Regions from separate parts of the Homo sapiens genome. Here region 1 is linked to region 2. The links come from fine-mapping of genetic effects on gene expression. A gene starts in region 2. The other region holds a variant in brackets. All regions are shown on one strand. Distances are between the middles of the regions. Region 1 has its middle 11 kb from the start of BAHD1. Region 2 holds the start of CCDC9B (coiled-coil domain containing 9B).

The links. PIP is the estimated chance that this variant, and not a neighbour inherited with it, causes the effect.
Region 1: its variant is the best candidate, but not a certain one, in a credible set for the expression of CCDC9B in whole blood (TOPMed, PIP 0.67).

What each region holds. Positions count from the first base shown.
Region 1 is chr15:40,427,014-40,432,496 of GRCh38, reverse strand. It overlaps a transcript of IVD not described here. Among named protein-coding and RNA genes, the nearest start is that of BAHD1, 11 kb to the left of the region's middle. The variant T/C (reference allele first, on the strand shown) is at 2,757.
Region 2 is chr15:40,337,633-40,342,846 of GRCh38, reverse strand. CCDC9B (coiled-coil domain containing 9B) reads left to right here and starts at 1,908. Exons shown (of 11, transcript NM_207380.3): 1 at 1,908-2,039; 2 at 2,832-2,942; 3 at 3,228-3,335; 4 at 3,944-4,099; 5 at 4,187-4,312; 6 at 4,954-5,123. The coding sequence starts at 2,028. RefSeq lists an enhancer at 2,012-2,815.

The sequences.
Region 1 (5,483 bases), 90 kb before region 2:
GGGGGGACTACAGTCTGGGCCACAAGTATGGTGTTAACCAACCATGGTGCCACCTGTGCTCTGCACTGTGCAGGCACCAAGAAGACTTGGGAGGCCATGCAGACAGCATTGCTTCTGACCTAGGAAAGCTACTCCACCCAGCAGAGGCGTGATCCTCAGAAACTGAAGAGCACATCAAAGAGTGTATGACCTAAGCAAGACTGGGCCAGATGATTAGTAACTGGAAAAGTGACATCAAGACTTAGATATGATAGGCCAGGCGCAGTGGCTCACACCTGTAATTCCAGCACTTTGGGGGGCCGAGGTGGGCGGATCACTTGAGGCCAGGAGTTCAAGACCAGTCTGGCCAATGTGGCAAAACCCTGTCTCTACAGGTGTGGTGACACGCATCTGTAGTTCCAGCTACTCAGGAGGCTGAGGCATAAGAATCGCTTGAACCTGGGGGGTGGAGATTGCAGTGAGCCAAGATGGAACTATTGCACTCCAACCTGGGTGATGGAGTGAGAATCTATCTCAAAAAAAAAAAAAAAAGACTTAGATATGAGAGGCCTGACAATTTTTCCCCTTGATTTGTGAATATTATACTATATTTAAAAATCTAATAAGGGCATTTATAAAAATTACACTTAGTTATATAGACAACAACTCTTCTTTGTTGAAAGGGATTATGGGAAATCAGCAATTGCCTTTTTCATTGCTTCCCTCTGTCAGGGTGTATTCTGTGATAGGTAATGTTCCTGGAGAGATTCCATGAGTTAGGCACTGTGTTAAGCTCTTTACACATAATCTTTTTTTTTTTTTTGAGATGGAGTCTTGCTCTGTAGCCCAGGCTGGAGTGCAGTGGCGTGATCTCAGCTCACTGCAAGCTCTGCCTTCCAAGTTCACACCATTCTCCTGCCTCAGCCTCCCGAGTAGCTGGGACTACAGGCGCCCGCCACTGTGCCCAGCTAATTTTTTGTATTTTTAGTAGAGACGGGGTTTCACCATGTTAGCCAGGCTGGTCTCGGTCTCCTGACCTCGTGATCTGCCTGCCTCGGCCTCCCAAAGTGCTGGGATTACAGGCGTGAGCCACTGCGCCCGGCCTACACATACTCTTAATCCCCAGCCAGTCTTATGAAATAGATAGTGTTATTATTCTCATTTTACTAATGAGAAAACTGAGGCATAGAGAGGTTCGGTAACTTCCCAGGGTCACATTAATAATAGTGGAGCCGGCTGGGCACGGTGGCTCACACCTGTAATCCCAGGTCTCAGGGAGGCAGAGGTGGGAGGATAGCTTGAGCCCAGGAGTTCGAGACCTGTCTGGGCAATAAAGCGAGACCCCGTTCTCCACAAAAAGGAAGAAAAAAAAAGACAAAAAAAAAAAAAGCGTAATAATAGTGGAGCCAGGGTTTACATCCCAGCCTTGTCACTTTTAATGATTTCTCCATCACTTCTTCCTAAATAAGCTTCCCCAAACAATTCTCTACTCTTATGTTTTCCAAATGTCTGTTAGCAACTCATTCAAATTTTACACATGAAGTTGCTGTGAGCAACATTCATCTCACTGTTAGATTGGGGGCAAAATGTTGCAAGTCGATTGTCATATTTCTTTATAAAAAGATATTCCTTTGGCAAAGCCGTTATCAAAAGTACCCTTTCCCTGCCTTCTGCACTCTCTTTGACACTGAAACATCAATATGGTCTTTCAAGAACATCAGATACACTTCAGCCAACTTCCAACTACAAGCAAACTCAGTGTTCTCCCAATGTTTCCACTGTGGGGTGCACTGGCAGTTTTAAGAGTCAAGAACCTTGGACTCATCCTTGGCACCTCCCTCTCCCTCCCAAGCCGCCACCCATAGCTAATCCATCACCACAGCCTGTCATTTACTGGAGTCTCCAGCCTCGAATCTCCTCCCACCTCTGTGATCAACCACAGCCCAGCCTCCCGCATCCACTCTGCCCCAGTCAGAGGGATCTTTCCAAAATAGACTGCCTCATAGCACTCTCCTGCTTAAACCCTTCCGTGACTCCTGCTTACACTCAGCATAAAGATCCAAATCTGGAACTGACTATTGTTGCCGCCCCAGCCAGGAGGCTCCTCTGATCTCATCTCTCGGGCTCAGTCACACTCCGCAACCTGCAATGCTCTCCTCCTAGCAAGCCTGGCAAGCCGGTGATTCCTGGCTAAGATCTGCCTCCCCGGCTAGGCTAGGGTGAAAACCACATCTGCGTCTCCCTGGGTCCTCCTGTTTCTCCATGGCCCACAGGGTACCTGCACATGATAGGTTCTCAGTAACAGCTACTCAGTGATGAATGAATGGCAGAGAAATCAAGCCTTTGCCTGTGCCGCAGCGGCTCTGCACCCTGACTGCTCTGCCAGGTGGCCACAGTGCTAGACTTCCATATTAGCTTAGAAAACTACCTCTTGCAGCCACACTGCGTGCCAGGCTCTGCCTCCCTACCTTTAAACACACCCATCCTGACCCAGTTTGCCTGTTTTCAGGAGTGATCACCAACATTTGTACTTTTTGTGACTTGTACATATTTTTACTATAAAATGTCCTGACCTGATTCATTCAACAACTGGATAACAATTGGTTATGGGTTTGACAAGGAAGACTCATTGAAATCTGGAGGCATAAAAGTTACAGTTCTGGCTTCGGCAGTCCAGATGGCTTCCCTGAGAAGCTAGAGGCTGCGGCCCCAGAACTCTGTTCTTTTAGCTGCCACTAAAAAGATGGAAGAATTTAGTTCAAGGCGAAGCCTTGAGA[T/C]TCCCCCCTGCCCACTCCTGCCCTCCCAGCTCCAAGGCCGCCCTTGATGTTTTATTTAAATCTGATTTCATCTAGATAAGGTTGGTGGAGGGCGAAGAAGTTATCCTCCCTGCAGCCTGCCCCCGCCCCCTGCTTTGCATTCATTATGCAAGTATTTATTTGGAGGGAGAGGGCCTCCACTGAGCCAAGTGCAAAGTGCTGGGGATACGGCAGCAAACCAGAGACAGGTGGGCGTGTAGATGGGTTAGTGCTCATGCTGGGTCTTAAAGAATGGGTAACATTAAAATTGGAGTAATTGAGATGTCTCATAGTTTTTATGTCTATCTCCCCAACTAACTCGTAAACTTTTTTGGCCCCGTACTGTTACTAGTCTTTGAATCCCTGGCACCCTGGGACATAACAGTCCCTCAGCAAATGCCAGTTCTTAACTGAGCAGGGGATTGGTGGATGTGGGGGCAGGTCACTCGTGTGGGCTGATCCTGGGGTGTGCCAGCTGGGGGACAGGTGCCTAAGTGAGGACGCTGGCCATGCCAGAGCATCCACTGGCAGGGGATGGAGTGGTGGGCCACAGGGGCTTGGCAGACCCTCTGAGGCACAGAGAGATGAAGTTTCCATGGGGCAGCAGGGAAATGAGTTGTATGGCTGTTCCTGGTGAGTGGGCAGGCTGGGCGGAGGGATGGGACTTATCAGAGGAGCTTGTAGTGTAAGATGGCTGAGCCCACAGGAGTGGCCATAGGGAGTTTCCAGCCTTGGGGATGAGGGGAATGCAGAATTGGGACCGGGCTGGGTCCTCATTACTGAGGGAAATGCTGTTGGGATCCACACAATGTGAGCTCTGAGGCAGCTGCAGATGTCCCAGGCAGGGCTGAGGACCCTGCATTTCTCTGCCCGATCCTTCTTTGGGGAGGCCTCACAGTCAGTCCTACAGAGAGATTGTCTTGTTGCCCCTATTGGCAACAGGCTCCACATTCTGGGGCACTTCCAGGGCTCTTGCCCCACCCCCCACAGCCTCTCTCCAGGCTCAGGAGTCCCGAACAGGAGGTTGCAGCCCCCTTGGAGGTGTGGGTGATCAGGTGGGAGGGCAGAAAAACTGCAATACAAAGGTCTCTGACAGCCTGGAGGGCCAGTGAATGGGGCACCTGGATGTGTGTGGCCAGGTTCCAAGCACCTGGGCGGCTTGGCCATGGAAGGAGAAGACTATGGAGGGCCCCCACTTGCTCCTTCACTCTGGAGCCAAGCAGCCTCCTAGGGAGGGAGGGTACCAGGGGAGAGGGAGGTCCCAAAGGCCAGCCTATTTCACAACCACCTGCTTCTCCAGCCTCAAAGGACCGTAGAGTATACTTTGCCCGGGGTACCTGGGAGAGAGGGGCTGGGAAGAGGTACAAGAGGACCTGGAACTGGCTGGATCTCAATATCTAGGTGGTGATTCTGAACTGCTGCCAGCTCCGGGCCTTGGAAGCAGTCTTAGGAAGGGAGAGCAGATCTCAGCTCTCTCAAGCAGTCTCAAGCAGCAGTCATATAAAACCCACAAACAGTCCAGTCTTTTTTTTTTTTTTTTTGACACGGAGTCTCACTCTGTCACCCAGGCTGGAGTGCAGTGGCCAAATCTCGGCTCACTGCAACCTCCGTCTCCCAGGTTCAAGCAATTCTCCTGCCTCAGCCTCCTGAGTAGCTGGCATTACAGGTGCGTGCCACCACACCCAGCCAATTTTTTTATTTTTAGTAAAGACGGGGTTTCACCATGTTGGCCAGGCTGGTCTCAAACTTCTGACCTCAGGTGATCTGCCCGCCTCAGCCTCCCAAAGTGCTGGGATTACAGGCATGAGCCACCGTGCCTGGCAGTCCAGTCTTAATTAGCAACCTTGGACTGGTCTGACTCCCACCCTTCCACTCTGGGCCACTGGTGGGCTTCTGGAAAGAAAGGAGGGGCTGGGCAGGATGCAGGCCAGTTATGAAGGACATCAAGTCTTCCTTCACTACCCTTTTCTCATTTCAGGTTCCTCTTTCCCCCTATTTTAAATCTTAATATATCTTATAGTAAAGTTATCTTAATTTATCTTATAGTAAATTTCATTTAACTATTCTACTTCAACAAGTAAAGAGACCCACTGTATGCCCAGCCCTGGCCAGCCTGCAGCATCAGACAAGACTCAAGTATGAACTAAGGGATTTTGCTACTCTATTCCTGTAAATAGAAAGACTTTGCGGGAGGGGGCAGGTTGTCCTGAAAACACATGTCTTTGTAGAGGTTGCCTCTTGGGAACCCAGGCAGATGTGCAAGGGGACTCTCAAGGCAGGCCAGGCAGGCAGCCCCCAGCGCTGGGCTTATCTCCCACAAGCAGCTGCGTGTTCACGCTCCTTGCCTCTGCTCCTGCAGCGTGTCTGACAGCCTCTCTGAAAGTGTGTGCAGACGTATGCATGTCCATGTGCATGCTCACCCATGTTTGCTCCTGGACGGGCACAAGGCACAAGCTGTGTCTGAATGGATCTGGATCTGGAGCTGTGTCTCTCTCTGCCAGTGCGAGCGTAGCCCTAGTCTTCTTGCTTCCTTCCTTCCTTCTTCTGCCAGCAAGGGCAGCCCTCTGTACTTCCGCCACTGATCCACTGGCCACCTTTGAGGAGCGGAGGTACTGCCTGTGCTGAGATATTCCTGGGCCTGGAATACCTTTTTTTCTTCAAGAAAATTCCCACTTATCTATCCAGCCCTTACTCTCTCGTGTCTTCCAG
Region 2 (5,214 bases):
CTACTACACACCCAGGCTATATGGTATAGCTATTGCTCCTAGGCTACAAACCTGTACAGCAGGTTACTGTACTGCATACTGTAGGCAGCTGTAACACAGTGCTAAGTGTTTACATATCTAAACTTAGAAAAGATATAGTAAAAATATGGTGTACAAGATTTAAAATGGCACACCTGTATAGGGCACTTACCATGAATGAAGCCTGCAGGACTGGAGGTTGCTCTGGTGAGTCACTGAGTGAGTGATGAGTGAATCTGAAGGCCTAGGACATTACCGTCTGCTACTATAGATTTTATAAACACTGTACACTTACGTTAGACTAAATTTATACGAATGATTTTTTGGTCAGGCATGGTGGCTCATGCCTGTCATCCTAGTACTTTGGGAGGCCAAGGCAGGAGGATCACTTGAGCCTAGGTGTTCAAGACCAGCCTGTGCAACATAGCAAGACGTTCTCTCTACAAAAAATTTTAAAACTACCTGGACATGGTGGCATGCGCCTGTTGTCCAAGCTACTCAGGAGGCTGAGGCAGGGGGATCCCTTGAGCCCAGGAGGTTGAGGCTGCAGTGAGCCATGATCATGTCACTGACCTCTGGCTTGGGTGACAGAGTGAGACTGTCTCAAAAAATGAAAAATTAAAAAATATATATTTTTGTTTCTTCAGTAATAAATTAACCTTAGCTTACTGTAACCTTTTTACTTTATAAACTTTTTAATTTAAAAAAACTTTTTGACTCTCTTGGTAATAACCCTTAGCTTAAAACACAAACAAAACACATTGTACAGCTGTACAAAAATATTTTCTCTTTATATCCTTATTCTATAAGTTTTTTTGCTATTTTGAAACTTTTTCTTTTTTTTAACTTTTTAAACTTTTTTCTCAAAATCTAACACACACACATTAGCCTAGGCCTACACAGAGTCAGAATCATCAACATCACTGTCTTCCATTCCACATATTGACCCACTGGAAGGTCTTCAGGGGCATTAACAGGCCTGCAGCTGTCATCTCCTATGCTAACAATGCCTTCTGGATTTCCTCCTGAAGGACCTGCCCGAGGCTGTTTTACAGTTCACTTTTTTTTGTTGTTGTTGTAAGTAGAAGAAATACACTCTAAAATAATGATAAAAAGTATAGTATAGTAAATACATAAGCCAGTAACATAATTGTTAATTATCATTATCAGGTATTCTGTACTGTGCACACTTGTATGTGCCATACTTTTGTGCGGCTGTCATGCCGTAGGTCTGTTTACACAAGCGTCACCATAAGCACATAAGTAGTGCCCTGTGCTACCATGTTATAATGGCTACAATGTCACTAAGCCATAGGAATTTGTAGCTCCATTATAATCTTATGGGACCACCATCATATATGTGGTCCATTGTTGAGTGAAACGTCATTATATGGTGCATGACTGCACAGAGAAGACAATGTCCAACCTAAAAGAATGAATGACTATTGTTGTCATTTTAGGGATGTGGTAGTACTTGGTAGTCTAGGGGAGGTGAGCTTCTTGATCCCTTTGAATTACTTAAACCAAGGCTGATGAGGAGAAGGAGCAGGAGAGGGCAGGCGCATCTGTGTGCTGTAGGCCTTTTTCTACTCATGGGAGGCACAGAGGCCTACGCTGGCTGCCCATCTTGTCTGCAGGCAGGCCCAGGCTGGGGTCCTGCTGGGGCCTAGGCAGCCAGGCCTCCTGTGTAGGCTTGACCCACCAGGGAGAAGTCCCTACCAGTCTGTCTGGGGACGCTGGGGTGGGGCAGGGAGAGGTGCTAGGCAGGACCAGCCAGCTGCCAGTGCCCTGGTCCTCGCCCTCTGAGAGTGGAAGGGTGGGGGTGGCGGCCCGACGTTCCTGGCTGGGAGCCCAGAGGAGTCTTTTGTAATCACAACATGATCTCGTGTGCTGAGCAGCGAAGCCGGCAGGGAGAGGCCGGCAGAGGCCCGGCTCCGGTGGCTCCAGCTTTCCTCCCACTCTGGCTCCCCAGGGGCTGCTCTGGAATTCTCTCGGTGCCCGCCGTTGCCATGCACTCGGCTGTGAGTGGCAGTCTGCCTTTGGCAGGGGGCTTCTTGGGACTGGGAGGGGGCTGGGATACCAGGCAGCCACCCTCTGGGGGCAGCTGGGGACAGCTGGGGCTGGGAGGAAGAAGGCTGTGACTAGGGTCACAACAGAGAACCTGCATCCAGACAGAGAGGAACCTGGAATCTTGATGCAGAGACATGGCTTGCCCAGGGTGACTCCTGGGCTGGGGCCGCCAGGGGAGCTGGCTCTCTCCGCCCCGACTACCAGCAGCTTTCGGCCTGGAGAGGCTGGGCCCCTGGGAGCGGCTCTTTCCTCCAGGCTGGGCACAGGCCTAGGTGCGGGGTCCAGGGCCTGAGAGCCCAGGACGGAGCCAGGGCCTCTCCTTTTTCTCTGGTTGTGGATCTGGGAGCCAAACAGCTCCCCCCTCGACCTCCCGAATCCCCTGGCAGCTTCCCAGTCACGGCAGGTTCCGCTGCCAGAGCCATTTATAACTCCCATTCCAGGCTCTGCTCGGCAGTGAAGCTCCCTGGAGAGCTGGGGGAGGGGCACCCCACTGCTGGGAGCTGTGGCTTGGGGTATGAGGCCCTGACCTGAGCCCCCTGAGGAGGCAGGGACAGGCAGACGGGCCTAGCTGGAATGGGGGCTTGGGGCCTTATTTGGGCCATCTCCCTAAGCAATCCCCTTCCTTCCTGGGTGACCTTAGCTGTGGGTCTGGGATCTCTTCCTTGGGTGGTGAAAATGTGAAAGCTGGGGACTGGTGAGAGGGGGACCCGGAAGTCAGGAGCTTGGGTTCCCTGCCTCTGCAGGGAACTCCCAGAGCCGAGTCCCCCATGAGCAGGCAGGAGAAGGACGCAGAGCTGGATCGGAGGATAGTTGCCCTGCGCAAGAAGAACCAGGCCTTGCTCCGCAGGTACCAGGTGAGTGGGCTGCCACAGGGCCAGGAGAAACCACTTGGCTGCCGCTCCCTGTGCCCCACACGTGGTGGTCTCCCTGCAGGCTCAGCAATGCGCCTCTGGGGCTGGGGCCAGGGGTAGGGTGGGCATGGTCCCTCTTAGAGGCTTGGTGAGGGTCCTGGGGATGTGTGATGTGGCGCCTCTGCCCCCTGGTGTCCCACTGGTGTCTCTCTGTGTAGGCCTATCAGCATCTATGTCTCTGTGCACCTGGGGGGCCATGGCGTGTGCTGACCCCCAGCCCTCCCACAGGAGATCCAGGAGGACCGTCGGCAGGCAGAGCAGGGGGGGATGGCTGTGACCACACCAGCACTCCTCCAGCCTGATGGCCTCACCGTTACCATCAGCCAGGTTCCCGGTGTAAGCCTCACCCTGGGAGACAGGGCTCGTAGCAAGGAGGTGGAGGCCCAGACCATGTCGGGGAAAGACAGCTGCCTCTGTTCCCCTCTCCTACTAACTATTCTGGGGTGCACCTGCCAGCTCCCAACCTCCTGCAGTCGGACCACTGCTGTCCCCACCAAAGAGCCACAGCTGAAAGCCCCCCTACCCCCAGTAGATGCATCTTCATACCCTTTTCCAGTCCACAGCCCTGCGCCTATGCCACAAAGCACAGGCCACTCCTAAACCTCAAGCCCCAGGGGCTAAAACCCTGCAGGAAGTGGGGGACAGAGAAGTTGGGGCTGAATGCCAGGAGCAGTGTCTGAGGGACAGAGACCCATTGTTTGAGTGCTCTGGGTTTCCCAGCTCAGAGATGACGGGCCACTGTGGCATCTTGGGCCGCTGGGTGGCCCTGGGCCCTGGATAACCTCATGCCATTGGCATGTGAACACCCTGTGGGAGTCAGCTCTTCTGTGGGGAATGCAGGGAGGGCTGGGGTTGGAACCCAGGCCTGGGGAACCACCGAGAGGACCCAGCACCCAGGTCCTGCCCAGCACTGCCCATGTGGCCTGAGGGTCTTTGTTCTGCAGGAAAAGCGGGTGGTTAGCAGGAACTGGGCAAGGGGTACCTGTGGACCCAGAGTGACCAACGAGATGCTTGAGGATGAGGATGCTGAGGACCACGGGGGTACTTTCTGCTTAGGGGAGCTGGTGGAGCTGGCTGTGACCATGGAGAACAAAGCAGAGGTGAGCAGGGTGGTGGGGAGTGCAGGCATCGGCAGGCAGCCTCTTCCTCCCTGGCTCTGCTGCACTGCCCATCTTCATCCTCCCCAGGGCAAACGGATTGTAAGTGAAAAGCCTACCAGAGCAAGGAACCAAGGCATAGAGGGGTCACCTGGAGGGCGTGTGACCCGAAGCCCCCCCACGCAGGTGGCCATCAGCTCAGATTCTGCACGGAAGGTGTGTCTTCAAGAGGGGATGGGGACATGGATCTGAAGGTCCTCACTTGGGGGAGGCAGAGAAGCTGAGTCAGATATGTCCCTCATTTGCGGGGACGTGGCCAAGGGAGCACATGCAGGAGTTCCTGCTCCTCCTCCCTTTCTCTGGCCAGTCTCTACTTTGGGTGGGCCTTGAAGTGGGAGACAGTTTAAGCCAAAGATGTGATCCAGCCCCCTCCCCTATTTAGCCCTGCTGATGGTGGCATGGGAGTTGGGGAGGGGGCAGGAGGGTGGAGTTGACTGGCCAAGTGCCAGGTGTGACCTCTAGGTGGCAGCAGCCCCTAGTCCTTGCCCTTGCTCACAGCTTCCAGGGCCCCTCCCACTCCGGCCCGTCTGCATACCCCTGCAACACCCCTGTGGGTTGGTGCTACGGAGATCCTCCCCATTTTACACGAGGAAATGAGACACAGAGAGGTTAAATTACTTATGTAAAACACACAGCTAACAAGTGGATGGAAACCATTTCCACGGGAGAGCTGGAACAGGCCTAATTTTTAGCTGGAGATGTGGAAACCTTGAGAGAGGAAGCGCCTGGAGTCTCCAAACCCCACCCCAAGCCTCTTCCTGCTTCTCCCCCTCACTCTGAGTGTCTTCTCCCTACAGGGTTCTTGGGAGCCCTGGAGCCGGCCGGTGGGGGAGCCCCCGGAGGCGGGCTGGGACTATGCCCAGTGGAAGCAGGAGCGGGAGCAGATCGACCTAGCCCGCCTCGCCCGGCACAGAGACGCACAGGGTGACTGGCGCCGCCCGTGGGACCTGGACAAGGCCAAGTCCACGTGGGTGGCTGGGTTGGGCAGGTTGCCTGTGGTGCGGGATGGAGCTGGCTTCGGGCACTGCTGGGAGGGCTGCAGGGACCCTCCTCGGGGT